Linked DNA regions of Homo sapiens: region 2 is linked to region 1. Evidence: fine-mapped expression QTL. A gene starts in region 1. The other region holds a variant in brackets. All regions are shown on one strand. Distances are between the middles of the regions. Region 1 holds the start of TFAP2A (transcription factor AP-2 alpha). Region 2 overlaps LOC105374921 (a long non-coding RNA gene).

Region 1 (2,901 bases):
ATTAAAAAGGGGAATCTTGGGAAAACTAGAGCAGATTAACACAGCTAAAAGTCGGTTCCCGGTGATTTATTTTGATGCACGCACGAGACGGTATCTAGACTTGCAGGCACACACACGTCTGTTTTTAGGCTCAACTTCAGAAGCGGGTGTGCAGTTCCATAGGAGTTCTGTATTCGTGTCCACGTTGCACCCAGGAAACCTTAGCCTGAACACCAATTTGAACTGTCAGTTGGCCCTAGCTTCACACAAACAGGAGAAAAATTGTTTAACCCCTGGAGCTGTCAAGTAACCTCTTCAGGGTACAACTTTTATTTTACACGCTGCAATTAAGGGATTGCAAACCCCAGCAGAGCCACCGGAGCCGCTTGGCAGAATCTCCAACCTGGGGGAAAGCTCAAAGCCAATAAAACTCCCAAGGCGCTGCGGCCCGAGGGGGTGGCTGCCTCGAGCGGAGGCGATCCCTTGTTGGGAAAAAATCCTGGAGTGACTTCGCCGGTCTTGGTTTGGTGGTTATGTTTAATTGCGAAAGGGATAATGATTTCTAATAAAATTGCACGGGGCCAAAAGGGCAGCTCGGATCGTGGTAGCAGGGTTAAGGGAGAAGTGCTAGAAGCTGGGCCCCAGGCGTGGCGCTTGGACCTTGAGCAGTGCCGGGCTTTGCAGAAGGCATCTCTGGAGAAAAGGAAGCGGAGAAAGAAAGGAAGGGGAATGTGGCGGAATTGGGGTAAGAGAGGGGGTGTTGGGGCAGGGCCTCGCGGCGGAGCTCGAGGAAGGTTTTATCAGTTCGCAGGCTGGAGTGCGCTCTAGAAGCAAGTTCGCGGCGTAGAGAGGCCTTTATACCTGTGTCGGAGCGGCCGGCGGCAGATTGTGGTACTGGCGAGCAATTGGACTATTGTTGATATGCTAATGAGGCGATTAGGCTGTTGGTAAAGAGCTGGAAAAGGGAAAAGTTTCTACCATTAGAGGGAGATCTCCGAGCGCACACGGGAGCTCTTTCCCTTCTCTCCTCCTCCTCGCCCTTCTCCTCGCCCTCCTCCTCCTCCTCGCCCTCCTCTTCCTCCTCCTCCTCCTTGCCCTCCTCCTCTCCCTCCTCCTTCTCCTCCTCCACCTCCTCTCCCTCCTCCTCCTCCTCCTGCGCTCACCGCCGGCAGCCAGCACTTTGCGCTCACCCAGAGAGTAGCTCCACTTGGGTGCGAGACCGAGAGGGGCATATCCGTTCACGCCGATCCATGAAAATGCTTTGGAAATTGACGGATAATATCAAGTACGAGGACTGCGAGGTAAGCGCGACGCCGGCTCGATCATCCGTGCGGTCACAGGCTCCGAGCTTGACCCTCCCTCTCCTCCTCCTCTCCTTGCAACCAGCTGCGAAACGCGGGTGGGACAAACTTTCCCCAGCGCAGCGCCCGTCCCTCGGATTCGCCCGAAGAACGCGGGGGAGAAGCTGCAGAGAGAGGACGTGGATGCTCCCTTCTTTGGTTTCCCTACTTTGAAGCTCGTGTCCCACTTTACTCCCCTTTCTGACCAATTTTGGCTGTGCCTAAGAATGGGGGAAAAGAAGAACATGGGCTTTTGAAGCAATTGCTGGCAACTGGGCACTTGCCTGTGCACTCCTCGTGTTATCTTCATCGAGATTGAGGGCCCAAGTCACCAGGAACAGAAAGGAAAGAGAAAACTCTTTTCTCTCTTGAACTTCCTCTCCGATCTTTAATATTCCTTCTTCTTTCTATTCATTCATTCATTCATTCATTCATTCTTTCTTCCCCCCACCCCCACTTCTAAAGCGGTTCCCTTCTCGGCTTTAGAGACGGCCCCCCCACACTTCGCTGTGAGCTGGGCTGCATCTTCCTGTAAGCGGGTTCAACTTAAGACCACTGATCCCAGCTGCGGGGCTCGCTCCAGATCCTCTGTGCTTCACGAAGTTCTAAGTAGCTTCTCCCTCTGAGCTACAGGATCGACGCACCCCACGGGGGTGTGTGGGGGTGGGGTGGGGAGATGTGCTGCGCCGAGCCTGCTGGCCGCTGGGTGCGGGAGCACCAGCTTCTGCACCAGCCCAGAACGACCGTGGGAATCCTTGCGCGGCTGCAGACCACCTCTGGTGCCGCAAGCCCGCTGGGCCGACAGAGCGCGCCGCTTTGGAACCCATTTTAAAACGCAGAGTCCCCTGAGCTCGCCTTCTTGAGGCAGCAAGGGAGACCCTAGCGCGACCTGTCCACCCGCAGGAGGCGCTGGGAACGGTTACAACCAACACTGTAATGAGCAATGAGTCCGAGAGAGGGGTTGGGGTGTGTAGGGCTGGAGATTACCTAAATAAATAGGTGGCAGTCCCAACTTTTGCTGTTTTTTTTTTTTTTCTTTTTTGGCATTTGCAGCTGAGAATGTTAGGCAGGAGGTGTGTGTGCAGGCGCAGGGGCGGAGATCTTGACTTCACTCGAAACCAGAAATTGGGTTTATGTGAACGATGTGTCACCCGCTCCCTCCTCCCTTTTCTTTCTGAAGATTATTTTAAATCGTTCTCCTTTCAGGCCCCCCACCCCGGTAGATGGGGACGGGGTGACATCCCACGGGTACTGGCTCTTCCCTGGGGGGGTCCTGTCGCGCTAGAGGAGGGGCGCAGGGACCCCACGTCAGACCAGTCGCTTTGTTTTCGAGGCTGGGGGCGAGCTTTGCGGGCAGGTAGGAATGAAGCCGAACCCCTCAGTCTCATAGGACAATTCATACTGTACTGGTCTGGGCTTTGGCCGGAGGCTTGGGCATTTCACTTTCGCAGAGGCCGAAACCCAGCTCCAGGTGTGGGCGCCCTCGGCGGGCGGGGTCCGAACCTCCGTGCGGCTCTAGGTGCCGACTGGATGGGGTGGGTGGCTAGGTGGGGGATGAACTTGCACCCCTAGAGGGATCCTG
Region 2 (2,901 bases), 64 kb after region 1:
TGAGTCAATCTGCTGGCCCAGAGGAAAACCAGAGATTAGAGATCTACGCTTAATTAATAGGCGGTGAGGAAGCCATTTCCAGACTCACCCTGTACTTTCAGAAGCAAATTGTGAATTATTGCCTCGAGAGATAGGCTTTAGAGTGTAAAGTCCATTTTTGTGTCAGTTGAGGAGCCTAAACAAATGTTGAATGGCACCACTTTCTCTTTTTCTTTATTTCCTTTTTTTTTTGAGACAGGATCTCATTCTGTTGTCCAGGCTGGAGTCCAGCGATGCAATCATGGCTCAGTGCAACCTTGAACTCCCGGGCTCAAGCCATCCTCCCACCTCAGCCTCCCAAGTAGTTGGGACTATAGGCATGCACCATCACAACTGGCTAATTTTTAAATTTTTTGTAGAGAGGGGGCTCCCTATGTTGCGTAGGCTGGTCTCGAACTCCTAGCCTCAAGCAATCCTCCCGCCTCGGCCTGGGATTACAGGCGTGAGCCACTGTGCCCAGCCTAATGACACATTTTCTGATTGGACATTAGAATGCCCAAGGGTCGAGCCTAGCAGTGTGCTCCTTCTGGGTGGTTTAAGGGAGGCAGATGCTCTGTGGCTTCAGGGATGTGTAGCACACCTAAGAGCCACAGAGTCACCCTTTCCTAGTACCCTATGAGGCCACATGTAAAGTGCCTCAGTCTGGGGTCATCTTGTTTTCTCTCTTTTTTTTTTTCTTTTTAATCCCCATTTAGCTCCAAGCAAGAGAAGGAACTGGCCCTTCTTTTGCTTGTGCAAGGGTGGATAATGACTTGCATATTCCAGGAGAGTGGTGAGGCTCACCACCTTGATAGCTACATTTTGTCTGGGCTTCTCAAAGAAGGGAGGACGAGGAACAGGTTTTTGGCAGGTTTTGTTCCAGTTAGGGCTGGGCAGCAGTGAAACAGGCTGCCTGTCAAGTCCTGAGTTGTCCAAACTGCAGAAGGAATTCTGCTTGATATAGGAGGCTGGAATAGATTATGTCTAAAGTCTTTTCTAAAAGCACGGCTGAGGGTTTCCCCAAGTTCAGCTTTCTTATAGGAGGGCAGTATGGTGTGTTGATCAAAAGCAGTGGCTGAGGCCAATCAGTCTAGATTTCAACTCTGCTACTTATAGCCTATGCTGTGTAGCCTTAGGCGAAAGTCTGTGCCTTCGTTTTTTCATCTGTAAAATAGGCTCAATGACAGCAGAATCTATTTCATGAGAGCTATGCTGCCTCATCTCATG[G/A]AGCTGGTGTAAAAAATAAGTGGATTAGGCTAGGCACTGTGGCTCACGCCTGTAATCCCTGCACTTTGGGAGGCTGAGGTGGTTGGATGACTTGAGCTCAAGAGTTCAAGACCAGCCTGGGCAACATAGTGAAACCCCATCTCTACTAACAGTACAAAAAATTAGGCTGCTGTGGTGGCGTGCACCTATAATCCCAGCTACTCAGGAGGCTGAGGTGAGAGGATGCTTGAGTCTGGGAGGTGGAGGTTGCAGTAAACTGAGATCGTGCCACTGCATTCCAGCCTGGGTGACAGAATGAGACCTTGTCTCCAAAAAAAAAAAAAAAAAAGGAGAAAGAAGAAAAAAAGAAATAAGTGAGTTAATACACAGAGTGTGTAGAACGATACCTGGCCCAGAGTCTGAGATTGATAAAGAATCACTATTATTAACTGTTTAAAACAAACGGGAGCTGGGCACGGTGGCTCACGCCTGTAATCCCAACACTTTGGGAGGCCGAGGAGGGTGGATCACCTGAGGTCAGGAGCTTGCGACCAGCCTGGCCAGCATGGTGGCCTGTTTCTACTAAAAATACAAAAACTGGCCAGGTGTGGTGGCAGGCCCCTGTAATCCCAGCTACTTGGGAGGCTGAGACAGGAGAATCACTTGAACCCGGGAAGCAGAGGTTGCGGGGAGCCGAGATTGTGCCATTACACTCCAGCCTGGGCGACAAGAGTGAAACTCCGTCTCAACAACAACAAATGAACAAACAAAAAGGTTCTGAATTCCCATCTTCCCTGCGATAAGTGGTGGGGTGTTTTCTGTCTTTTTTCCTCGTAACACATCCCCCCAGATTCATGGGAACTGAGCAGGGCAGCTGGGCAGAGGAGGGAGAAGCAGAGACGTGATGTGACAGCAGGAAGGTGGGAAAGAATCAGCTCTATCCTCCTACACAGTGCAAGTCACAGCTGCAACCAACCTTCTTGTTTGCAGTGGCAAAGGAGGAAGAGGCAGTGAGATGGCAAATAGGCAAGGCCACCATCAGTCATTGTCGTCACTGTCACCATCGTCTTGCAGATCAGCCACAATCCTGCCTGCACAGAACAGGTACTCAAGAAATGCTGTTCTCTCCCCAGGGCTGATAACTCCCCGATCTCCACTTTTCAGTCGGCTTCTCTTTTACCTATTCCGGGGCTGCTGTTCCAAAAGCTCTCCAATACCCTCACTCCACTCTTGGCCTCACTCCTAACAGGTTATATCACCTCCCTATGTACAGAGGCCATAGAGACCACTGGGAGAACCACTCAATGTCCCTACTTTTTTTTTTTTTTTTTTTTGAGACGGAGTCTCGCTCTGTCTCCCAGGCTGGAGTGCAGTGGCGCGATCTCGGCTCACTGCAAGCTCCGCCTCCCGGGTTCACGCCATTCTCCTGCCTCAGCCTCCGGAGTAGCTGGGACTACAGGCGCCCGCCACCACGCCCGGCTAATTTTTTGTATTTTTAGTAGAGACGGGGTTTCACCGTGTTAGCCAGGATGGTCTCGATCTCCTGACCTCATGATCCGCCCGCCTCTGCCTCCCAAAGTGCTGGGATTACAGGCGTGAGCCACCGCACCCGGCCAATGTCCCTACTTTCTTTTTCTTTTTCTTTTCTTTCTTTCTTTCTTTTTTCTTTTTTTCTTT

What was found. PIP is the estimated chance that this variant, and not a neighbour inherited with it, causes the effect. A credible set is the group of variants that fine-mapping cannot tell apart.
Region 2: its variant is the best candidate, but not a certain one, in a credible set for the expression of TFAP2A in tibial nerve (GTEx, PIP 0.83).

The regions. Positions count from the first base shown.
Region 1 is chr6:10,413,320-10,416,220 of GRCh38, reverse strand. It overlaps TFAP2A (transcription factor AP-2 alpha), which reads left to right and starts at 1,147. Exons shown (of 7, transcript NM_001372066.1): 1 at 1,147-1,280. The coding sequence starts at 1,230. It overlaps TFAP2A-AS1 (TFAP2A antisense RNA 1), which reads right to left. Exons shown (of 3, transcript NR_033910.1): 2 at 1,170-1,540; 3 at 52-934. RefSeq lists enhancers at 606-1,265, 1,266-1,923.
Region 2 is chr6:10,348,849-10,351,749 of GRCh38, reverse strand. LOC105374921 (a long non-coding RNA gene) reads left to right here. Exons shown (of 3, transcript XR_926459.3): 2 at 2,215-2,328. Among named protein-coding and RNA genes, the nearest start is that of TFAP2A-AS2, 54 kb to the left of the region's middle. The variant G/A (reference allele first, on the strand shown) is at 1,246.